Linked DNA regions of Homo sapiens: regions 2 and 3 are each linked to region 1. Evidence: fine-mapped expression QTL. A gene starts in region 1. Each other region holds a variant in brackets. All regions are shown on one strand. Distances are from middle to middle.

Region 1 (8,172 bases):
TGAGCAGCTGAGGCTGAGCTCAAAGGGTGTCTGGCCACTTACAAGCCACTGGACACTCAGCAGAATGCCGGATTGGGCATCTGCAAACTCTCCCATGAGAGTGGACCCTCGGTGACCCTGAACAGGCTAATTTGCCTTGTGAGTCCTAGTTTCACTGTTTTCACCTCTAGGATGGGGATTAGACTAGCCCCCACCTCAGTGTTGGGAGGGCGCTCAGGAACTTGCAGCATGAATTTTAAATTATTTCTATTACTACTGTGTGTGAGTGGTTCTCCCTGGTGGGGCAGCAACACTCAGCTGAGAAGGTGGAGGTGTCCAGGCAAGTCCCAGATAGCGTCTGTGAACCCCACCCGGCCCTCCTGCAGATGGCGGTGGCCCTTTGAGGCCCAGACCAAGTGGCAGGACCGATAAGGCCTCCTATCCTGCCAAGGGCAGGCCCAGGCTGGGAGGAAGGGTCAGGGGTTTCAGTTTCCAAAAATCTACTTACCGTCAAAAAAGCAGGTCATGAAACAGCTATTTAAAGGTAAAATGAGGAGACTTGGAGGTGTGGGGTCTTAGCAGAGAAGAGCCTGAGGATGTCCCCTGTAGCAAATGGAGGTTGGCCCTGGTGCTTCATTGTCCAGGAGACCCTGGGAGAACTTAGAGCTGGGACTCACTCAGGGACCATCTGCTCTGAACCCTGTTACTGGTGGGGAAACTGAGGTCCAAAGCAAGGCCCACTGACCCTCAGGCCAGCGTGTGACAATGATGTCTCATTTCTGTCACAGCCAATGAGGTGCAAACATGGACATGAGGGTGGCGCTGGGATCCAGAGTGCTGCTTCGAGGGCAGGGACGCACCCAGGACCTCTGTGGGCTGGGGTCATGGTGAGCTCCCTGCACTTTCACCAGTTCGAGCTCTCATTATGACTGACGATAGTCAGAAGAATGAACAATGAGTGCCAGGGTTACTGGCAGGAGGCCAACCCTGAGAGGGTAACCGGGGGAACAGTGGGATCCTTTGAGCCCAGAGATGTCCAGTCTGGAGCCCCAAGGTTCTGCCCATTGGGGCAGCAGCACGATTAGGTCAGAAGAGCGAGACCTGAGTCACAGTCCTGCTCCATTCGCATGGTCGCTGTGAGGGTCCCTGTGAGGAGGCCTCCATTACCACCACCGGCCACTGCCCTGGGTTCCCCCACCCCCATCTGTCCCATCTCACCCCTCCAGCCTCAAGCCCTGCTCCTGCAGTCTCATTTCCATCCCAGAGGCACTCCTGGGAAGTGCGGGAGAACTCACAAACCTTTTGATTATACATAAAATCAAAACATGGACAACGGGGATAAAGCCTTGCAAAATGTGTAGCAGAGGTTATGTATTCCTCAGAAAGAACACAGCCAGACCATCCAAGAACAGACCACCTGTAAAGAAAACAAGAAAAGCAATTCTCTGCAAATAATTAAGTGATGCAGCTCTCCCTCTCAATCAAAGAAATGCAACATAGAACAAGACACCATTTTCCTTTCTGGGAATTTCAGGAAAAAAAAAAATGTTATGCAGGCCGGGCACGGTGGCTCACGCCTGTAATCCCAGCACTTTGAGAGGCCGAGGCGGGTGGATCAAGAGGTCAGGAGATCGAGACCATCCTGGCTAACGCGGTGAAACCCCGTCTCTACTAAAAATACAAAAAAATTAGCCGGACGTGGTGGCGGGCGCCTGTAGTCTCAGCTACTGGGGAGGCTGAGGCAGGAGAATGGTGTGAACCTGGGAGGTGGAGCTTGCAGTGAGCTGAGATCGTGCCACTGCACTCCAGCCTGGGCGACAGAGCAAGACTCCATCTCAAAAAAAAAAAAAAAATTAGCCTGGTGTGGTGGCGGGCACCTGTAGTCCCAGCTACTTGGGAGGCTGAGGCAGGAGAATGATGTGAACCTGGTAGGTGGAGCTTGCAGTGAACTGAGATTGTGCCACTGCCCTCCAGCCTGGGTGATAGAGCGAGACTCTGTCTCAAAAAAAAAAAAAAAATGTTATGCAGCCCTGTGCAAGAAAACGCACCTGTTGGTACTGTTGAGCCATTTCAAATGCACGTACCCTTCACCCTGGTGAGGCCAATCCACAAATTTGTTCTGCAAAATACACATTAGTGTCAGTGTTGGTGCAAGAGGGTTACTTGCAACAGTGAAAATGCTCATCCCTCAGTCAAGTGGTTAGGTTCTGATGCATTTGATGTGCTTGGGAAAGTTCTGGAAGCAGCCAAAGAAGCTCATTACCTTTAGTTACCTCCTGGGGAAGCCTGGGATAGGGTAGGTGGGGTGATTTTTTAAAAAACAACTTCATTGAGATATAATTTACCATACCATACCAATTTGCATACCATAAAGCTTATCCACTTCAAGTGTACACTTCCATATCTTTTTTTTGTTTTTGAGATGGAGTCTCGCTCTGTCGCCCAGGCTGGAGTGCAATGGTGCGATCTTGGCTCACTGCAAGCTCCGCCTCCCGGGTTCACACCATTCTCCTGCCTCAGCCTCCTGAGTATCTGGGACTACAGGCGCCCGCACCATGTCCAGCTAATTTTTTGTATTTTTAGTAGACACGGGGTTTCACTGTCTTAGCCAGGATGGTCTCGATCTCCTGACCTCGCGATCCGCCTGCCTTGGCCTCCCAAAGCGCTGGGATTACAGGCATGAGCCACTGCGCCCGGCACTTCCATGTCTTTTAGTGTATTCGCGTTCTCAGAGCTGTCCAACCATTACCACAGTCAACGTTAGAACATTTTCATCACTCCCCTTCAAAAAACCCATGAATCGCTCCATATTTCCCCTGACCCCCTGGAAGCCCTAGGCAGCCACTAATCATTCTGTCTCTATGGATTTGCCTATTCTGGGCATCTTATATAAATGGAATCATATATTAGTGTGTCTTCAAGATGGATTCATGTGCCGTACTTCATTCCTTTTTATGGCTGAATAGTATTCCCTTAAACAAACTATACCATATTCACCCATTCATCAATTGATATACCCTAGGATTGCTTCCACTTTGGGCTATTATGAATAATATTACTAAGAACACACATGTTTTTGTGTGGACATATGCTTTCATTTCTCTTGGCTATATATCTAAAAGGGGGATTTGCCGAGTGTTGTGTTAACTCTAACCTTTCAGGAACTGCCAGCCTGTTTTCCATAGCGAGTGTAGCCTCTTACATTCCCACCAGCAGGAGAGAGATTCCCGTTTCTCCACACCCCTGCTGACGCTTGTCTTTTTGATTACAGCCATCGTAGGAGGTGTGATGTGGCATCTATTTGTAGTTTTGATTTGCATCTCCCTAATGCCTAATAATGTTGAGCATTTTTAATTTCTGTTTTGCCCAGGCTGGTCTGGAGTTCCTGGCCTCTCAGCGCTGGGGTCACAGGCGTAAGCCTCTACCAGTTGAGCTGAGCATCTTCTGGTGCTTATTGGCCATTTGCATAATGCACTGGAAAAATATTCATATCCTTTGTGCATTTTTCAATTGTCTTTTTATTGTTGAGTTGTAAGTTTCCTCCATTCTAGATACAATTCCCTTATCAGATATGTAACTTACAAATATTTTCTCCCGTTCTGTGGGTGGACTTTTAATTTTCTTGATGGTGTCCTTTAAAGCACCGAAGTTTTTGTTTTGTTTTGAGATGGAGTCTCGCTCTGTCGCCAGGCCAGAGTTCAGTGGCACGATCTCGGCTCACTGCAACCTCCGCCTCCCGGCTTCAAGCGATTCTCCTGCCTCAGCCTCCCGAGTAGCTGGGATTAGAAGCAGGCGCCGCCAAACCCAGCTAATTTTTGTATTTTTAGTAGAGAGACGGGGTTTTACCATGTTGGCCAGGATGGTCTAGATCTCCTGATCTCATGATCTGCCCACCTCGGCCTCCCAAAGTGCTGGGATTTCAGGCGTGAGCCACCGCGCCCGGCCGCAGTAAAGTTTTTAATCTGATGAAGTTTAATTTATTCTTCTGTAGTCGCTCCTGCCTTTAGTGTCACTGCCTCGCCCAAGGTCTCAAAGATCTCCTGTCGGCTTCCAAGTGTTTTTTTTTTTTTTTTTTTTTTTTGAGACGGAGTCTCGCTCTGTCGCCTAGGCTGTAGTGCAGTGGCGCAATCTCGGCTCACCGCAAGCTCCGCCTCCCGGGTTCAAGCGATTTTCCTGTCTCAGCCTCCCGAGTAGCTGGGATTACAGGCGCCCGCCACCACGCCCGGCTAATTTTTTTTTTTTTTTTTGTAGAGACGGGGTTTCACCATGTTGGCCAGGATGGTCTCGAACTCCTGACCTCGTGATTCACCCGCCTCGGCCTCCCAAAGTGCTGGGATTACAGGCGTGAGCCACCGCGCCCGGCCTTTTTTTTTTCTTTTTTCTTTCTTTCTTTCTTTTTTTTTTTTTTGATACGGGGTCTCGTCGCTCTGTCGCCCAGGGTGGAGTGCAATGGCGTGATCTTGGCTCAATGCAACCTCCGCCTCCCGGGTTCAAGCGATTCTCCTCTAGGATTACGGGCGCCTGCCACCACGCCCGGATAATTTCTTCTAATTTTTAGTAGAGATGGGGTTTCACTATGTTAGCTAGGATGGTCTCGATCTCCTGACCTCGTGATCCGCCCGCCTCGGCCTCCCAAAATGCTGGGATTACAGGCGTGAGCCACCGCGCCCCGCCCAAGTGTTATTTGTAAAACGAAGAAACCAACATCGAGAGGGACGCTGACTCGACCCCGCGCCTTTCCCATCCGCACCAGCAAGAGGGGCCCCTGTGCCCCAAACGCGAACCGTACGGCTCCAGACAGCACCGCGGAACTCGGTGGCTTCCAGAAGGCCCCGCGCCTGCGCATTCCGCTGCCTGCGCCTGCGCCTGCGCCTGCGCCGTTCTCCCGGCCGCCGCCTTAGCACCTCCTCCGGACGGTGTCGCCGAAGTCTCGCGAGCCCGGAGCGTGGCACGTGGGTTGGTAACTGTGGCGCTGCTCCGCGTCCACCACCACCCCTGTCCTCCTCAGGCCCCCTCCGCCTCCACCCCTGCCCTCCTCAGGCCCCCTCCGCCTCCACCCCTGCCCTACTCAGGCCCCCTCCGCCTCCACCCCTGCCCTCCTCAGGCCCCCTCCGCCTCCACCCCTGCCCTCCTCAGGCCCCCTCCGCCTCCACCCCTGCCCTCCTCAGGCCCCCTCCGCCTCCACCCCTGCCCTCCTCAGGCCCCCTGCGTCCCCGCCTCGTCCTCCTCAGGCCCCCTCCGCCTCCGGCTCCGTCCTCCTCAGGCCCCCTCCGCCTCCGGCTCCGTCCTCCTCTGGCCCCCTCCGCCCCCGGCCCCGGCCCCACGGCGGGATGCGGGACAACACCAGCCCCATCAGCGTGATTCTGGTGAGCTCGGGGAGCAGGGGCAATAAGCTGCTGTTCAGGTACCCCTTCCAGAGAAGCCAGGAGCACCCGGCGTCCCAGACAAGTAAGTGAGCGCTGGGCGGGGGCCTGGCGCTCGCGGGGGCCGCCTCATTCCGGGGTCGCCTCATTCCAGGGCCGCCTCGCGGAGCTTAGCTTTTGCTGGGCATTCGAGATCTGCTCGTTGTAGAGTATTTGAAAAGTAGAAAAAGGAAAAAAAAAATTAAAATCATGCATTGTTCACCACACCAAAGCAACTACTGCTGACATTTCATCAGTCTCCAGCCTTTAAAAAATAAAGTAAAATAAAATAAAATGAGTTTGGGATGTATTCATCATGAGAAAATACAAAATTACACGAACAAGGCCGGTGGCGGTAATCCCAGCACTTTGGGAGGCCGAGGCGGGTGGATCACCTGAGGTCAGGAGTTCGAGACCAGCCTGGCCAACATGGTTGAAACTCTGTCTCTACTGAAAAAATAAAAATAAAAAAAAACAAATTAGCCGAGCGTGGTGGTGCGTGCCCATAATCCTAGCTACTTGGGAGGCTGAGGCAGGAGAATTGCTTGAACCCGGGAGGCGGAGGTTTCAGTGAACCGAGATCGCGCCACTGGATTCCAGCCTGGGCAACAGAGCAAGACTCCGTCTCAAAAAAAAAAAAAAAAGTTACGTGAACATCTGAAGTTGTCTTTGCCACCCCCAGTTCTAGCAAGCACAGGGATCACCCCTGGCCGTGTTGGGAGTTGTCTGCCCTGTGCATAGATGCAGATCTATCCACAGGAAAAGGGAACGTCGCGTGAGGTTTTTCATCGCACGAATTGTTCTGTGGCGCCCTTTTCCCATAGTCGGCCTTGGAGCTCCGTCTGCCTTTGCAAGCAGGGATCAACCTCACCCTTGGCTGCAGGCTGCTGCCTTCCCCTGTGGACGGCATGTAGGTTACTTTTGATTTTTCATCATCATGAATGTTCAGTTTTTGTTTTTATTTTATTTATTTTTTGAGACGGAGTCTCACTCTGTCGCCCAGGCTGGAGTTGAGTGGCGTGATCTCGGCTCACTGCAGCCTCCACCTCCCGGGCTCAAGGGATTCTCCTGCCTCAGCCTCCCAAGTAGCTGGGGCTACAGGGCATGTGCACCACACCCTGCAATTTTTTTTTTTTTTTTTTTTTTTTTTAGTAGAGATGGGGTTTTGCCATGTTGGCCAGGCTGATCTCGAACTCCTGGCCTCAAATGATCTACCTGCCTCGGCCTCCCAAAGTACTGGGATTACAGGTGTGAGCCACCGCACCCGGACTGTTCAGTTTTTATTTTGTATTTTGTTTTAAAATTATTTTTAAACTTGTTGATATGGCAGAAAGTTTTAAAGATACAAAGGAGTTTAGATTATGAAAAGAAAGTTCTTTCCTACTATTGGCCCCCAGCCCTCAGTTTCCATCATAGGGGTAACTACTGTTCCCATTTTTCTGTGTCTTTCCAGGACCTTCTGTGTCAATACAGGCGTATGTATTTCTTTTTTCTTTTTTTTTTTTTTTGAGACGAGTCTTGCAGTCTTGCCAGGCTGGAGTGCAGTGGCGTGATCTCGGCTCACCGCAACCTCCGACCCCCTGTCAAGCAATTCTCCTGCCTCAGCCTCCCGAGTAGCTGGGACTACAGGCATGCGCCACCATGCCCAGCTAATTTTTTTTTTTATTTTTAGTAGAGATGGGGTTTCACCATGTTGGCCAGGCTGGTCTCCAACTCCTGACCTTGTGATCCGCCCGCCTTGGCCTCCCAAAGTGCTGGGATTACAGGCGTGAGCCACCGCGCCCAGCCTGCACTTGTGTTTTTTTTCTAAGCACAAGCAAAGTCACACCATACACACTGTTCTGCCCCTGTTTTCGTTTTCACTTCATGTCTGCATCTTTGATGTAGATCAGAACCTGTCGAGCACCCTTGTCCTTCTTACCGGCCACGGTGAATTCCATGAGATGAACATATTGTGATTTGTTTATCGTGTCCTTTTGGTTGATGGACGCAAAATTGTTTTCAATCTTTTGCTAATACGAAAAGTTCAAACGTTCTTTCCAGGTATTGTCATTTTGCAGAATTCTTGTAATATTAAATCCCCAAAGTAGCATGGTTGGGTCTAAGGGATAAAGAGCATATTTATTTTTAATAGGTTAGATTTTTCAATCTTTGTTAATCTGGTAGGTGAAAAATTATATCTGGTAGTAATTTTAATGTTTATTTGCCTTTTAATTGAGATAGAAAGCATATTTTCCTGTTTTTGGAGCCATTTGGATTTCCTTTTCAGTGAATGACTTATTTATAACCTTTGCCTAATGTTCTCTTGGGTTGTTTGATTTTTTTTCCTTATAGATTTGAAGGAGTTCTTTATATATTTAATGTAAAAATAGGTCTTGGGACAAAGCTATAGTCACCCTGTTTGCTTCTGTGTAGTTCTTGCCAGAGTTTTGATTTTTGTGGAGTTTTCAGTCTAATCTCTTGTGGTTTCTGAGTTTTGTTTTAAATGGAAAGGCGTTTTGCTCTCCAAAATTATTAACAACAACAATAAAAAACTCCCTTATTTTCCTCCAGACTGTTTATGTCTTTTTTTTTTTTTTTTTTTTTTGAGACAGAGTCTCACTCTGTTGCCCAGGCTGGAGTGCAATGGCCTGATCTTGGCTCACTGCAACCTCTGCTTCCCGGGTTCAAGCGATTCTCCTGTCCCAGCCTCCCGAGTAGCTGGGTTTACAGGTGCGTGCCACCACGCCTGGCTAATTTTTGTATTTTTAGTAGAGATGGGGTTTCACCATATCAGCCAGGCTGGTCTTGA
Region 2 (8,172 bases), 36 kb after region 1:
CTCTGTGTTGAGAGAATTACTACCCTCTGGCTTTGAATTGCCTGGTATCCAGTCTCTTCCTTGGACATTGTTCCCTTATTCTGAGTGTATGCCTCAACTCGGATTAGATTACAAACAAAAATCAGGCTAACTTGGAATTAAAATAAAAACCAAGCTGGTGCGGTGGTGTGCTCCTGTAGTCCCATCTCACAGGCGAGGCCAAGGTTGGGGGATCACTTGAGCCCAGGAGTTCGAGCTTGTAGTGCTCTATGCTGGTGTCTGAGTAGCCACTGTACTCCAGCCCCAGCAACATGGTGAGACCCTGTCTCTTAAAAATTTGTTTAAATAAAAACCAAACCATTGACTTTATATTTCTTTTTCTTCTTCTTTTTTTTTTTTTTTTTTGAGATGGAATATCCTTCTGTTGCCCAGGCTGGAGTGCATTCTTCTGCCTCAGCCTCCCGAGTAGCTGGGACTACAGGTGCACATCACCATGCCTGGCTAATTTTTGTATTTTTAGTAGAGATGGGGTTTCACCATATTGGCCAGGCTGGTCTCGAACTCCTGACCTTGTAGATCCGCCCGGCTCGGCCTCCCAAAATGCTGGGATGACAGGCGTGAGCACCGTGCCCGGCTCGTTGACTTTATATTTCTAAAGGAAGAATGGACTATGATTTCTTAGGTTTGAATCGTGCTGGAAAGTTGAAAGGAGACAAAACCTTGGACTGCCTGTTGTGTGATCTGCAGGCTGCGGAGGAGCTCAGAACTTGAGGCAACCCAGCGCCACCTAGTGGATATTAAAGGAGGACAGGAATCTGAGTTTTGCTGAAAAAGGCTCCTAAGCTGTTGTTCAGCATGTAGCATTCTTTCCTGACCTACGCATTCTGTTTGTTAGTGCCCAGGATCACATTTCCTCCATCCAAACTCCCACCCTAACAGTCTTGGGTCCTGGAGCTTGCCCCAGGGATGCTGGCAGCTATGTTTCTCTGGCAGGAGTCCAGGCAGTAGTACCCTCCCTGTACCCATCCTTGTCTGGCACTGGCATGGCTCTGCAGCCACCCAGGAGCCCCTCTGGGCTGTGGCCTCTCGTCTGTCCTCATCCCATCAGGTCCATGGTTGGCCTCAAGGGTCTGGTCTGCTGCTGCTCACTCTTCTGCACTGAGAGGAGGAGACTGAGTTTCCATTACTGATCAGGTGACCTAGGACAGAGCGCCTTTCTCCTGATGGTGACTGACTGCCAGATCTGGGGGAATCTCAGAACAGAACTGAAAGACCAGAAGCTGTGAGATTAATGAGGTTGGAGATTGGGGTGGGATTTTTCAAAGGAATTGTTCCTGGTTCTTTTTTTTTTTTTTTTTTTTTTTTTTTTTAATTTAAGGCAGGGTCTCACTCTATTGCCAGGCTGGAGCGCAATCTTGGCTCACTGCAACATCTGTCTCCCAGGCTCAGGTGATCCTTCCATCTCGGCCTCCCGAGTAGCTGGGACTATAGGCACCCGCCCCCACGCCTGAATAGTTTTTGTATTTTTTTGTGGAAATGGGATTTTGCCATGTTACCCTGGCTGATCTTGAATTCCTGGACTCAAGCAATCTACCCACCTTAGCCTCCCAAAGTGCTGGGATTATAGGCGTGAGCCACCATGCCCTGCCCCCAGTTGCTATTTTATTTATTTATTTATTTATTTGTTTGTTTGAGACGGAGTCTTGCTTCGTCACCCAGGCTGGAGTGCAATGGCACAATCTCAGTTCACTGCAACCTCCGTCTCCCGGGCTTAAGTGATTCTCCTGCCTCAGCCTCCTGAGCAGCTGGGATTACGGCGCCTGCCACCAGGCCTGGCTAATTTTTGTATTTTTAGTAGAGATGGAGTTTCACCATGTTGGCCAGCCTGGTCTTGAACTCCTGACCTCGTGATCTGCCAACCTCGACCTCCCAAAGTGCTAGGACTACAGGCGTGAGCCACCACGTCCGGTCCCCAGTTGCTATTTTAATTAAAGCTAGGGTTATGGTGTGGCTGAATAGCCTGGTGGCCCTGTCCTGCAGGACCTAACATCTGTGAATATAGGCTGGGAATGTGAATCGCTCAGGAGGCCACCCCAACACTTGTGCCATACCTAGCACTTGTGTCTCCCTGTGGATCCCAGTGGCCCTCAGTGACAGCATGTCACTCATTCATATGACCATTGAATTGTGTCTCCCAGGAGGGCAGGGATGTCTCTTCACTTTCTGCAACACAGCCCCTACACTCAGCCTGTGGAGGAGCACAGCTCATCCGCTAGGGGTCGACGGAATGTGTGGGTGGGAATAACAGCAGTGTAGATTCCATGGAGTGTGAAGAAGTGATTTGCTGAATGGTTCTCCGAGTTAACAGGACCTGTGGTGGGGAGTGATGTCCAGGGTCTGGCTGGGTAGGTGGTACTTGGTGCGGAGCCTTGCACTGCAAACTGTCGAGAGCAGGGTTGGTCCCATGGACCCTCTGTGAATATCCTGAGTTGTAGTACCCATTTCCATAAAAATGCACCTATATATAAACTTTCGTTTGAAATTTCAAGGTAGGCTGTTTGGAACCCACATAGATCTTTTGGGTTATGCAGCATCCCACTACTTATGGTAGGAAGCCAGGCCCATCCGTGGGACCAGAGGATGCAGAGGTTTGCAGGATAGCTTCACAGGTCCTGTCTAGTTCTAAGGTTAGGAATGGATGCTTTCTCAGATGCTAAAAGCTGAGGGGACTAGACTAAGCTTGTGCACATTTCTGTCTTGGAGATGAACGGCGAGAGTGTGTTTGAAGCCAGCCATTCCCTTTTGCATAGTCATTGTCAGGATGCAGGGCTTTGGCTGGGGCACCTATCTCCTGTCACAGACTGGGCTGGGCCCTCTTGGCTGGCCCAGAGCTGTGTGAGGGGCTGGATAAGTCTTGAGGAGGACAGTGTTTTCCTCCAGAGTGTTTTCAGACCAAACCATTAAACACCTTGCAAATAGAAGTGCAAGCTCGGCAGGAAACCTTTCAGGGCCCAAACCCTGCTTGTGCTAAGGGCTCTTGTCTTAAAGCTGCAGACTTAAAAACAGTGACAAACCTTTCTCTTTCCCCTTGTTAACAGACCTCAGTGCAGCTCCTGGCTTACCCTCTTACTGTGGGGGATTTACAGGCTGGAGGTTGGGCCGGCACCTTTCCAGAGCAGTCATCCCTCTGACATGTTCAGGGAATTTGCCCAGGTCTGCCATGGCCTTTGGGGCACTCCTGGTGGCAGCACTTGTCACCGCTCTAGGGAGCTGGGTTAGTTCATAAAGAAGCACCAGCCTCAGTGCAGAGTGCTCTGAGGGAGAAAGCAGCAGGTGGGTGAGCTGATGCTTGGGAAAATGGAGTAAAGTCCACGTGGAAGTTAGAGGAACCAACATGGCGTGTCTCTGCCAGAGGAGAGGGCCCCATGCCAGTGTACAAACCAGACCACATGACTGCGGCTCCAAGGACAGCTGACACGGTGAGGGCAGCAGAGATGACCAAGCTGGGAAGTCACTAGAAGAACCTTCATGTGACCCTCCTGCCCTCATTTCTCCATACCCATAGCTGGAACTTGTTCCTGGCTTTCCATGAGGTGTGTTCCAAGCCCCTGTTCCTTTCCCTATAACTCTCTCCAGTTTCTAATGCTCCATACAATTTGATTACAATTAGGTGTCTTTTTTTTTAAACGTTAATTTCAATTTTTTTTGAGACAGGGTCTTGCTCTGTCACCCAGGCTGGAGTGCAATGGCGCGATCTCGGCTCACTGCAACCTCCGCCTCCTGGGTTCAAGTGATTCTCCTGCCTCAGCCTACCAAGTAGCTGGGATTACAGGCACCTGCCACCACACCTGGCTAATTTTTTTTTTTTTTTTTGAGATGGAGTTTCACTTTTGTTGCCCAGGCTGGAGTGCAATGGCACGATCTCAGCTCAGTGCAACCTCCGCCTCCGCCTCTACCTCCCAGGTTCAAGTGATTTTCCTGCCTCAGCCTTCCAAGTAGCTGGGATTACAGGCATGCACCACCACGCCCAGCTAATTTTGTACTTTTAATAGAGACGGGGTTTCTCCCTGTTGGTCAGTCTGGTCTCAAACTTCTGACCTCAGGTGATCTGCCCATCTCAGCCTCCCAAAGTGCTGGGATTACAGGTGTGAGCCACGGCACCCGGCCTAATATTTGTATTTTTAGTAGAGACAGGGTTTCACCATGTTGGCCAGGCTGGTCTCGAACTCCTGACCTCAAGTGATCGGCCTGCCTCGGCCTCCCAGGTTTTGGGATTACAGGCGTGAGCCGCCACGCCCGGCCAATTATGTGTCTGTCTAGATGCCGCTGAGTGAAGCCCCCAGCGTGCAGAGCAGCCAAGTTATTTTCTTCCCTGCTGCACTCCAAGTACCTAAACTGGTGCTGGGAGCCACAGCACATGTCATAAGGCCTCACTGTGCTCCTAGATGGAGCAAAGACAGCTACATTTGAAACAATAGGAGCCTCCGTATTCTGATTCTGTGGTGTCCCAACAGCCACTTTGAGCTGCATCCTAAATAGGACAGAAACAGAAAGGCCTTGGGTGGGTGCGGTGGCTCACGCCTGTAATCCTAGCACTTTGAAAAGCCAAGGTGGGAGGATCGCTTGAGCCCAGGAGTTTGAGACCAGCCTAGGCAACATAGACCCTGTCTCTACAAAAAAAAAAAAAAAAAAAAAAAAAAAAATCACCCCAGGCGTGATGTTGCACGTCTGTAGTCCCAGTTACTTGGGAGGTTGTCTTGAGCCTGGGAGATCAAGGCTGCAGTGAGCGGAGATGGCGCCACTGCACTCCAGCCTGAGCAACAGTGAGACCTTGTCTCAGAAAAAAGAAAAAAAAAATAGACCTTTTATTTCCAGTGGCCCTCCTTTCTGACCCAGATGGTGACAGCACAGTGCATGGGGCCACCTCTCGCTTGCCCTTTCTTCCCTGTCGCATACGGATGCCAAGATCCTAACTATTGCTTACTCAAGTTGAGTAACCTGGATCCCCTGGACAAATCTCTCCTGGTGTGATCTTTAATTCCTTAGCGGCTGGGACATTTCTCAGGGTTTGATAC[G/A]AGTTTTTCACCCTGCAAAGACCCTGACCAAAGAGAGGTAAGGTTCTGGGAGCCTCTGTCTGCCCCGACATACTTGGTTAGCATGCAGTTCTGGAAGAAGCTGAGACTGCTGCCCTCCTCTGGGACCTTGGGGCCATGGTGTTCTCTGAGCACCCCGTATTGACGTGTCCTAAGAGACGTCCGAGGGGCCGTTTGTACCTTCTGGCCTGGGGCAGCCAGAAGTCTGGCCAAGTCTCCCGGACTTAGCCGGATGTGGGTGTGTTGGCCTGTCCCGCCAACTGGGAGCTGAGAATAGCAGAATAGGGTCAGGGGGTGATGGGAAAAGCACTAGTTGGCTGCTCTCCTGGGCAGTGGGGCAGTGAACAGAGGAAACATGATGCGGGGAGGTGCTGTAGAAATGGGCAGTTTGGAGAAGAACTTGTGTGTGTTTTGCTCCTATTTTAGAACTGGTGTCATTGTGAGGCTTCACAGGCTGCGTTCCCTGTGCAGGACACAAGGAAGGTGCCGGCCACTTTGAGTAGCCAGGCCTTGACAAGAGTAGGTGGAGATCCCCCCTGTTGCCTGGAGCCTCCGGGGATGCGGTGAAGGCCAGCTGCAGACAGCTTTGCTTGAGCAGTTGCATCTCCTCTGTGTCATAGAACAAGTGCTGTTGGCTCTTACTTAAGGCAAGGGCGCTTTGTGGTGAGCGGTGGAGTTGGGTGGCGCCCTGGCTTCTCCATCAGGGAGTTTTAGAAGCTCCTGGTGAAAACAACTCCTTCCTTGTTTTGTGTGGTTCCCCGAGGGGATGACGTGGGCTGCATCCCCACTGTGGAGCCTGTTCTTGGGGCAGGGCTTCCTAGGAAAGACAGTGCATGCAGGGAGGGCGGTGTGTTCCTTGGCTTCATTCAGGAAATGCAGCTCCGTGCCTATGTGCCTGACACGTTTTACAATGTGTAGAGAGCAGAGAATGAAACCCACAAGCCCCCCTCCTCAGGAGTGAGTTCTGGTTGGGGAGACAGCATTAGGCAGCGGGTCAGGGGTTGGAGTGTCAATGGGGCTGGGGTCAGGGGTGCTTCACTGAGAATGTGACACTTGAGTGGAGACCGATGGAGTAAAGGAGCCTTGGGGCGTCTGCAGAGAGTTTGTGGGCAAGGGCAAATGCCAGGGCCCTGAGCACAGCGGGACCTGAGTGACTGGGCACAGGGAGTGAGGCCACAGGAACGTGGGTGTTGCAGGCCCATGGCTGGGACTGCCCAGGTGGGAGTGTGGGGAGCGGTAGTCAGAGGGGCCAGTGCTCTGGGTGGCTTGGGCCTGGTGATGCTGAAAAGGCCTGGATTTTGGACATCCCTGCAGGTGGAGCAGATGGGATTTGCTGATGGTTTAAAGTGGACTGTGAAAGAAATAAGGAAACTGGGATGGTGTTGCTATGTTTGGCCTGAGCAAGCTTTGGGACCCGAAAGAACCAAGTTACCCTTACTGATAGAATGTGGAGTGAAAGGTTTTCCGTCGTAGTGAAGTGTTGGGGCTGGCTAGCACGGCTGGCTTGTGGTGACCACTTGGTATCCACATGCACTGCAACTGAGGTGCTGTGGGCATCTGCAGACTGCAGGGAGGTGGGCACTGTGTGCTTCTCACCACTGGAACACTCTGGGGGACTTGGCATTCCTTCCCTGCCCTCCTCGCCCTCTGAGACAGCCACTGTTCTGCCTGGACGTGCACCTGTGACGGGTCTTCATGAGGTGTGCAGGGCAGGCCCATTCACAGGGAGGATGTACTCTGGGTGTTGGGTGTCTGCCAGGGGTCTGGACGGGCAGGGGCCTGAGTTAGAGTGCCTCTAGTGCACTGAGTCCCCAGGACAGGGTACGGCTTCTCTCAAGCCCTGGCAGTCTGGTTGGACTACAGATTCCAGGGCTAGCCAGAAATATGTTTCTCTTTTTCTTTCTTCTTCTTCTTCCTTTTTTTTTTTTTTTTTTTTGAGACAGAGTCTTGCCTTGTTGCCCAGGCTGGAGTGCAGTGGCGTGATGTTAGCTCACTGCAACCTCCACCTCCTGGGTTCAAGTGATTCTCCTGCCTCAGCCTCCCGAGTAGCTGGGACTACAGGCGCCCGCCACCACACCTGGCTAATTTTTGTATTTTTAGTAGAGACGGGGTTTCACCGTGTTATTAGCCAGGCTGGTCTCGAACTGCTGACCTCGTGATCCGCCCACCTTGGCCTCCCAAAGTGCTGGGATTACAGGCATGAGCCACCGTGCCCGGCCCCCATATTTTCTTTTCTTAAACATAATGTGATCTTAAGAGATGCTCTCCTGCCCGGGTCTCCACCTGCAGTTTCCCCTAAGCAGCAGGGGAATCAGCACCATTGAGCAGGGTGTTTTCTGATCTGTGTGCATGGTTAGAAAGTTTATGTGAACGGGTAACAGCGCCCACTCTCTGCAGCCTGTGCACGTCGGGCGTAGTTCGGCTTCACATCAACAGCTGGCTGGAGGTGAGCTTCTGCCTGCCCCACAAGATCCACTATGCGGCCTCCAGTCTGATCCCCCCAGAGGCCATCGAACGGAGCCTGAAAGCCATCCGGTAAGTGCCCAGCCCCACGTGCTCACTCCCTGCCAGGGCCCTTCCCTTTAGCTTCTGCCTGAGATTTTACCACTTACTTTGTTCCAAAATTTCTCTTTTTCTTCTTCCCACTGCGGAAGCTTGCAGGTGGGGCTCTGCCGTTTATAGAAGTTAAAACACATAATTTTGTATCCAGTTGTGTCCAGAAATGACCAATCCCAGGTTTCTCCTGGGCCCTTCTGGCACCACCTTAGGCTTGGGCAGGGCAGCCTGGATGTGGGGCTGAGTGTCCTTGGGGAGGCCGGAGGGCTGGAGGGACTTCATCTTAATGGTGTTGCCCTACCCCAGTCTTTTGCATTTCAGTCAGCACTCATGGGATCTCAGTTATTTTCTTTTTCTTTTTTTTTTCTTTTTCTTTTTTTTTTTTTTTTTTGCGGGGGTGTGTGTGTGTGTGAGAGAGAGACAGAGTTTTGATCTTATCGCCCAGGCTGGATTTCAGTAGTGCGATCCCGGCTCACCACTACGTCCACCTCCCAAGTTCAAGTGATTCTCCTGCCTCAGGCTCCCGAGTAGTTGGGATTACAGG
Region 3 (8,172 bases), 45 kb before region 1:
CGCCACTGCACTCCAGCCTGGGTGACAAGAAAGCCCTATCTCAAAAAAAAAAAAAAAAAAAAAAAAAAAAAAAATGGTTTGACTCATGTCCCATGTGGGCTGATTATGTTTCCCACCTCTCAGTTCGTTCTTTTTTTTTTTTTTTTGAGACGGAATCTCACTCTGTCGCCCAGGCTGGAGTGCAGTGGCGTGATCTCAGCTCACCGCAACTTCCGCCTCCCAGGTTCACGCCATTCTCCTGCCTCAGCCTCCAGAGTAGCTGGGACTACAGGTGCCTGCCACCTTGCCTGGCTAATTTTTTGTATTTTTAGTAGAAACGGGGTTTCACCTTGTTAGCCAGGATGGTCTCGATCTCCTGACCTCGGGATCTGCCCGCCTCGGCCTCCCAAAGTGCTAGGATTACAGGCGTGAGCCACCGCTCCTGGCCAACACCTTTCAGTTCTTTCTAACATACCTGCTGTACATCAGGCAGGTACTTTAAGACCAAAGTAAAGGGGGACGCGGTGGCTCACGCTTGTAATCCCAGCACTTTGGGAGGCAGATAACCTGAGGTCAGGAGTTCGAGACCAGCCTGGCCAACATGGTGAAACCCTGTCTCTACCAATATACAAAAATTAGCTGGGTGTGGTGGCGGACACCTGTAATCACAGCTACTTGGGAGGCTGAGACAGGAGAATCGTTTGAACCCGGGAGCCAGAGGTTGCAGTGAACCGAGATTGCATCCAGCCTGGACGACAGCAAGACTCTGTCTCAAAAAACCCCCCAAAAACCCAAAATGAAGCCCTTCTGAAAAGGATAACTGCTAACTAATGTGTAGATGATGGGAGCTCCTTCCCTTTTTCACTTCGTGGGAGATTTTTTGGAGGGAATTCCTGAGGTTCACATTGTTAACACATAGCCATCCTCATCCGCTCTGTTTCTGCAGGGGTACACATGCCACCCTTGAGCTGGCTGGCTCAGTGGGCGCACACGGGCGCTGTGGTCTGGGTCTTTCTGCCACCGGTATCACAGTGTAGCTGGTGGCCTTGCTCTGGGCTCTCCTGCCACAGGCTGTCCCCTCCAGGAGGACAGATGGGTAGGTGGGCTGCTCTGCCAGCCCGTGACACAGGTCTAGCCCAGCCAACTGTCTCCAAGGAAAGGAGGGTGGAAGGGGCCGCCCTGTACAGGAGTCACTTGGGATTGATGCTGTGCTTTGCAGGCATCACCCATGTCGATATTCCCTGCGTGTTGCTGTTCCTCCCGTGTTGGTATTCCCCCCGTGTCGCTGTTCCCCCCGTGTCGCTGTTCCCCCCGTGTCGCTGTTCCCCCCGTGTCGCTGTTCCCCCCGTGTCGCTGTTCCCCCCGTGTCGCTGTTCCCCCCGTGTCGCTGTTCCCCCCGTGTCGCTGTTCCCCCCGTGTCGCTGTTCCCCCCGTGTCGCTGTTCCCCCCGTGTCGCTGTTCCCCCCGTGTCGCTGTTCCCCCCGTGTCGCTGTTCCCCCCGTGTCGCTGTTCCCCCCGTGTCGCTGTTCCCCCCGTGTCGCTGTTCCCCCCGTGTCGCTGTTCCCCCCGTGTCGCTGTTCCCCCCGTGTCGCTGTTCCCCCCGTGTCGCTGTTCCCCCCGTGTCGCTGTTCCCCCCGTGTCGCTGTTCCCCCCGTGTCGCTGTTCCCCCCGTGTCGCTGTTCCCCCCGTGTCGCTGTTCCCCCCGTGTCGCTGTTCCCCCCGTGTCGCTGTTCCCCCCGTGTCGCTGTTCCCCCCGTGTCGCTGTTCCCCCCGTGTCGCTGTTCCCCCCGTGTCGCTGTTCCCCCCGTGTCGCTGTTCCCCCCGTGTCGCTGTTCCCCCCGTGTCGCTGTTCCCCCCGTGTCGCTGTTCCCCCCGTGTCGCTGTTCCCCCCGTGTCGCTGTTCCCCCCGTGTCGCTGTTCCCCCCGTGTCGCTGTTCCCCCCGTGTCGCTGTTCCCCCCGTGTCGCTGTTCCCCCCGTGTCGCTGTTCCCCCCGTGTCGCTGTTCCCCCCGTGTCGCTGTTCCCCCCGTGTCGCTGTTCCCCCCGTGTCGCTGTTCCCCCCGTGTCGCTGTTCCCCCCGTGTCGCTGTTCCCCCCGTGTCGCTGTTCCCCCCGTGTCGCTGTTCCCCCCGTGTCGCTGTTCCCCCCGTGTCGCTGTTCCCCCCGTGTCGCTGTTCCCCCCGTGTCGCTGTTCCCCCCGTGTCGCTGTTCCCCCCGTGTCGCTGTTCCCCCCGTGTCGCTGTTCCCCCCGTGTCGCTGTTCCCCCCGTGTCGCTGTTCCCCCCGTGTCGCTGTTCCCCCCGTGTCGCTGTTCCCCCCGTGTCGCTGTTCCCCCCGTGTCGCTGTTCCCCCCGTGTCGCTGTTCCCCCCGTGTCGCTGTTCCCCCCGTGTCGCTGTTCCCCCCGTGTCGCTGTTCCCCCCGTGTCGCTGTTCCCCCCGTGTCGCTGTTCCCCCCGTGTCGCTGTTCCCTCCGTGTCCGTATTCCTCCCGTGTCCGTATTCCTTACCTGCACCTTTTCCTGCAGGTGGGACTCAGGGTACTTGTTCAGCACATGTGCTTTCCTCTTCGTCTTCTAGGAGGGAGTGGTTGGGTCTGGGCTCCCTGTTCCCAAGCCCACGTTGTGTTCATGGCTGTGGCTGCCTGGGTGATGAGTGTGAGTTTGCACCTGGGTTTCCCTGGGCCTTAAGCAGACAGCGTCACCCTCAGAGCCATCACCACTGTGAATCATTTGGATCTTTTTCCATCTGGGCATAAAATTGTATGTGTAGACAAATAGTTGTTTTTTGCTTTTTTGGGTGGGGGGGGTCAGGGTGTGGGGTTTACAGAAAAGGTGCTGTGCCCCTGGCCATCCTGTCCCCCGTGTCTGCTGATTACAGCTGAAGGACAGGTCCTCCTGGGATGCAGCATCAGTGTCCTCGGCCGCCCCTGGTAGCCTCCGGGGCACCATCCGTGCAGGGAGAGGCGCTCCTGCCTCTCTACCGTGCAGGGACAGTCGGGTGGGCTTTTGGTACACCTGCCAGGTGGTGCT[G/A]ACCAAACTGAGCTTCATGCCCCCGGTGCAGTTTCGCTGATAGCACCCACAACAGCTCTTCCTTTCTCCCTCCTCCCTCCCTCCTCCCAAATAACCCACACCAGGTTCTGCTGTCAGAGTCTGCGATAGGAGTCCCATGTTTTCACTTTTTTCACCCAGTACAGCGAGTCCTTCCTTTCCACTGCAGTACCAGTAAATCTCGCCAAAGATGGCTACTCGGAGATATATGGGTCTGGAAGTGTATCCCTCCCATGTGAAGGGGTCTGTAGTGTCAGGTGGAACCGGCCCTTGTCTCCACCCACAGGGACCACCTTGGCCTGCAGCCCAGACTGCAGGAGAACAGAAGAGAAGGGGGCCTCTCCAGAACATTTGGCGATTAAAAAAAAACTTTTTTTTTTTTTTTTTGAGACGGAGTCTCGCTCTGTCTCCTAGGCTAGAGCGCGGTGATGCAGTCTCGGCTCACTGCACCCTCTGCCTCAGCCTCCCGACTAGCTGGGAATACAGGGGCCCGCCACCATGCCCGGCTAATTGTTGTATTTTTAGTAGAGACAACGTTTCACCATCTTGGCCAGGCTGGTCTTGGACTCCTGACCTCGTGATCCACCCGCCTTGACCTCCCAAAGTGCTGGGATCACAGGCGTAAGCCACGGCACCTGGCCAAAATTATTTATTTATTTTTTTTGAGACGATGCTTGCTTTGTCACCCATGCTGGAGTGCAGTGTTGTAGTCATGGCTTACTGCAGCCTTGAACTCCTGGACTTAAGTGATCCTCCTGCCCCAGCCTCCAAGTAACTGGGACATAGGTGTGCACTACCACACTTGGCTAATTTTTTATGTTTTTGTGGAGACAGGTCTCACTATGTTGCTCAGGATATTCTTGGGAACTCCTGGGCTCAAGCAGTCTTCCCACCTCAGCCTCTCAAAGCACTAGGATTACAGGTGTGTCACCACAGCTGGCAGTGATTTTTTTAAAGGTAAATGGCTCTGTTTGGTGGGTGCTGTCGGCGCCAAACTAGCTGGATGGGCTGTGCCTTGTACCACCTTTGCCTCCTGCACAGGGTTACCTTGGGCTTGGGGAGCGCATGGGCCTTGACCGAAGCCCTGAGTGGGTTAAGGGTAGTCCTGGGGGGAGGAGAGGAGGATGCGGAGGCCGTTTCCTACCCCAGTGTGCAGCCGTCATGGGACAGGCAGGTGCTGGAGCAGGCCGAGGACCCCTATCTGGGGTGGCATCCTTTGGGGGAGGGGTGGCAGCCTGGAGCCAGAACCACGTTGGCCAGGATGGAACTTTTTTTTTTTTTTTTTTGAGACGGAGTCTCGCTTTTGTCACCCAGGCTAGAATGCAGTGGCGCAAACTCGGCTCACTGCAAGCTCCGCCTCCCTGGTTCACGCCATTCTCCTGCCTCAGCCTCCCGAATAGCTGGGACTACAGGCGCCCGCTATCACGCCCGGCCAATTTTTTGTGTGTTTTTTTTAGTAGAGACGGGGTTGCACTGTGTTAGCCAGGATGGTCTCAATCTCGTGACCTTATGATTTGCCCGCCTCGGCCTCCCAAAGTGCTGGGATTATAGGCGTGAGCCACCGCGCCCAGCCAGGATGGAACATTTTTTATTATAGTAAAGTGCACACAAAACGTGCCGTTATAACAGTTTTTCAGTGTACAGTTCAGTGGCACGACGTGTATCTACATTGTTGTGCAGCCTTCACCACCACCTGTGTAGGAGTGGCTTTGAAAAGGCAGAGTATGGCCAGGCGCGGTGGCTTACATCTGCAATCCCAGCACTTTGGGAGGCCAAGGCAGGTGGATCACAAGGTTAAGAAATTGAGACCATCCTGGCCAACATGGTGAAACCCCGTCTCTACTAAAAATATAAAAATGAGCCAGGCGTGGCAGGCACCTGTAATCCCAGCTACTCAGGAGGCTGAGGCAGGAGATTCGCTTGAACCCGGGAGGTGGAGATTGCAGCGAGTTGAGATTGCACCACTGCACTCCAGCCTGGGTGACAGAGCAAGACTCCATCTCAAAAAAAAAAAAAAAAAAAAAAGGCAGAGTGCAAATTCCCCTGGACTTGAGTGGGCATGAGTCTCCCCAACAGTGTGGAGGGCCCACAGCTGCTCCCCCTGCTCCCTTGGATCTGCACCTCTGGGTAGGTTCTGTACCAAGTGGGCTGAGCCCTTGAGCCAGGGCCAGCTCCCTCCAACCTCCACATCTCCAGGGAGGATGCGGTCTGGCTCTTCCACCTTCAGTGATGCTCCAGATGTAATCCCAGGAGGGTGTCCACACCTAGTTACAGGAGTCTGAGAGCCTGGTGCTTCCTCAGGGCCCCTGAGCCTCCTGGGCTCCAAGTGCTTGCTCCTGTGCGCGAAGTTGCAGCAGCCGCAGGTCCTGTGCTCTGGGAGCACACAGGATGATTGAGGTGAGACTGACTCGAGCTACCCCAAGGATAGAAACTAGAACGTGGATCCAAGAGGGGGCTCACGGGTGGGCTAGGGGCCAGATTTTTTCTTTTCTTTTTTTTTTTTTTTGTTTGAGACAGTCTCGCTCTGTCGCAAAGCTGGAGTGCAGTGGTGCAATCTCAGCTCACTCCAACCTCCGACTCTGGTTCAAGTGATTCTCCTGTCTCAGCCTCCCGAGTAGCTGGGAGTACAGGCATGCACCACCACACCCAGTTAGTTTTTATATTTTTAGTAGAAACGGGGTTTCACCATGTTGGCCAGGCTGGTCTTAAACTCCTGACCTCAGGTGATCTACCGGCCTCTGCTTCCCAAAGTGCTGGGATTACAGGCGTGAGCCACCATGCCCCGCCCGGAGATCTAATGTAGTAGAGATAATAACCTTTATCTGCCACATGTAGCAAATATTTTCTCTGGCTCTTCCCCCCGCCCCCTCCTCTTTTTTTTTTTTTTGAGACGGAGTCTCGCTCTGTCGCTCAGGCTGGAGTGCAATGGTGTGATCTCGGCTCACCGCAACCTCCGCCTCCCGGGTTCAAGCCATCCTCCTGCCTCAGCCTCCTGAAGTTGGGATTACAGGCGCCCGCACCACACCCAGCTAATTTTTATTTTTATTTTTATTTTTTCTGAGACGGAGTCTCACTCTGTCGCCCAGGCTGGAGTGCAGTGGCGCAATCTTGGCTCACTGCAGGCTCCGCCTCCGGGGTTCACGCCATTCTCCTGCCGCAGCCTCCCGAGTAGCTGGGAATGCAGGCGCCCGCCACCACCCCCAGCTATTTTTTTGTATTTTTAGTAGAGACGGGGTTTCACAGTGTTAGCCAGGATGGTCTCGATCTCCTGACCTCGTGATCCGCCCGCCTCGGCCTCCCGGAGTGCTGGGATTACAGGCGTGAGCCACCGCGCCCGGCCTGTCCACTTTTCCTCAGTGTCACCTTGAGAATACCATTTCTGAGGAAAAGCATCTCTACATGTGCCTAGAAGACTGGAACAGCTACGCATCAAATGTTAGGGGTGTGGATGAGGCCTGCCTCTACCCCGTGTGTGTGTGTGTGTGTGTGTGGCATGTCTGTGTTACACATGTGCTCTTGGATATGACAGCCATGTCCTGTTCTTGTTTACACATGACACAGTTTGCCGCGTGTCAAGCGGCAGCTGAAGGATGTGCTGCACCCATTCCTGGACCTGGGATACACAGGAAGGTGCAGCAAGCCTTGTTTTCGGAAGTTCTACAATGACCATGATTGGTTTTATGTGGACAAATATAAAAAAGCTTCACTCTCCGTAGTGATGTCGGGTGACGGCAGGGGTCTGGGTCGGTTCCTGGTCCACCTCGCCAGCTACGTGGCTAGGTGCTGGGGCTGGTCCCACCTCCTTCACCACAACCCCCCGGCACCCCAGGTCCCCGATTCCAGGCCACAGCCGCGGCGGCTGGGTGCTGCGCAGGTACCGGCTCGCGCCGGGAGGGGGCGCTGTTCCCTAACCTGCTCCGAGTCAGCCCCGGGCCCTTAACGCCGCCCGCGTGCGTTCACGCTGCAGGTGCGGAGTTCTCGCGGTGGGTCCGGGCCGCGTGCTCGGCGCAGAGTGGGGAGGGCGAAGCCAGCCGCCCTCGGGATGGGCAGAGTCGGCCGTCCTCGCAGCCCGCCGCCCGGGGCGTCCCGCGGCCCTCACCTACCACCCCATTCGGGAGGGTCAGGCTGCACGCAGTTCGGTGCCCCCATGGCCGAGGCCCCAAACCTGCTGGAGGTGGAAAGAGGCGCGCCTGGATCTGGGCACTGGGGGTGTGCCCCAGGCCCTCGCCTTTCCTTGGGGAGGGGCGGCGCCTTCCTCTCGCGTCCTGACCTCGAGAGAGCACGGCAAGAAGGCTGCTCCTGGGAGAGGCTTTACTCAAACACGGGGAAGGTCGCCTGGGGATCCCGCGGCCACCCACCCACAGTTCAGCGGTACTCGGAAACCAGCGCCGAGATAACGTGGCTCAGGAACTTGTCCAGCGACGCCTGCAGCGCGGGGCTGAAGTCTCCGGGGTAGTGCCGGGCGAGGGTTACCAGCAGGCAGTGGCCCAGGAGCTGCGGCGAGCGCTCAAGGCTCACTCGCCTGCACCCGCCCCGCACGCCCCCCGCACCCACCCCGCCGGGGCCCTCCCGGGGACAGGGGCCCAGCACGGCAGCCGCTCACCTGGAAGCTGGCCGGGTCCACTCGCAGCTGGCACGCGTGCAGGTGGCTCAGCGCGGACAGCGCGTGGGGTAGGTCGTCCAGGCGCTCCACGGCGAGGCTCAGCGCGTCCGCCACCTTCTGGCCGTGGGCTCTGACTTGTGAGGAGCCGGGGCTCAGGTCCAGGTGGGAGAAGTAGGTCTTCGTGGCGGGGAAAGCCAGGAAGGTCCTGCGAGAGGAACGTGGGTGAGGCGCGTCCGGGGGGCTTGGGGAGGGAGGGCCCCTGGGGGCGGGGGCGCCCAGCCTGCCGCACCTTTCCAGGGCCTCTGTCGTGTAGACGCCGACGTTGCTGCCCAGCTTCTTCCACAGGGCGCGCACCAGCGCCCGGTCCTCCGCGGACAGCGCCATCCCCGCGCTGGAACCCGCCGCGCCCTGCGACCCCGCTGCGCCTGCGCGGACCGGCCAGGGGTCCCGCGGCCTCCAGGGGGCGCCGCGCCGCAGCTTCGCCGCCCGGGGGTCCAGGGCCTCGTCGGAGATCCCGGGACCGCGCGCGCTCAATCTCCGACAGCTC

What was found. PIP is the estimated chance that this variant, and not a neighbour inherited with it, causes the effect.
Region 2: its variant is fine-mapped to the expression of NPRL3 in whole blood (TOPMed, PIP above 0.99).
Region 3: its variant is fine-mapped to the expression of NPRL3 in aorta (GTEx, PIP 0.95).

What each region holds. Positions count from the first base shown.
Region 1 is chr16:135,405-143,576 of GRCh38, reverse strand. It overlaps NPRL3 (NPR3 like, GATOR1 complex subunit), which reads left to right and starts at 4,904. Exons shown (of 14, transcript NM_001077350.3): 1 at 4,904-4,935; 2 at 5,243-5,427. The coding sequence starts at 5,310. RefSeq lists a cis regulatory region at 104-622, an enhancer at 4,975-5,024 and a silencer at 5,245-5,474.
Region 2 is chr16:99,807-107,978 of GRCh38, reverse strand. NPRL3 (NPR3 like, GATOR1 complex subunit) reads left to right here. Exons shown (of 14, transcript NM_001077350.3): 8 at 7,470-7,607. Among named protein-coding and RNA genes, the nearest start is that of MPG, 26 kb to the right of the region's middle. RefSeq lists an enhancer at 1-1,223. The variant G/A (reference allele first, on the strand shown) is at 5,055.
Region 3 is chr16:180,324-188,495 of GRCh38, reverse strand. It overlaps HBQ1 (hemoglobin subunit theta 1), which reads right to left and starts at 8,037. Exons shown (of 3, transcript NM_005331.5): 1 at 7,915-8,037; 2 at 7,626-7,830; 3 at 7,317-7,516. The coding sequence starts at 8,009. The coding sequence ends at 7,388. RefSeq lists a silencer at 6,917-7,266 and an enhancer at 7,277-7,536. The variant G/A (reference allele first, on the strand shown) is at 3,005.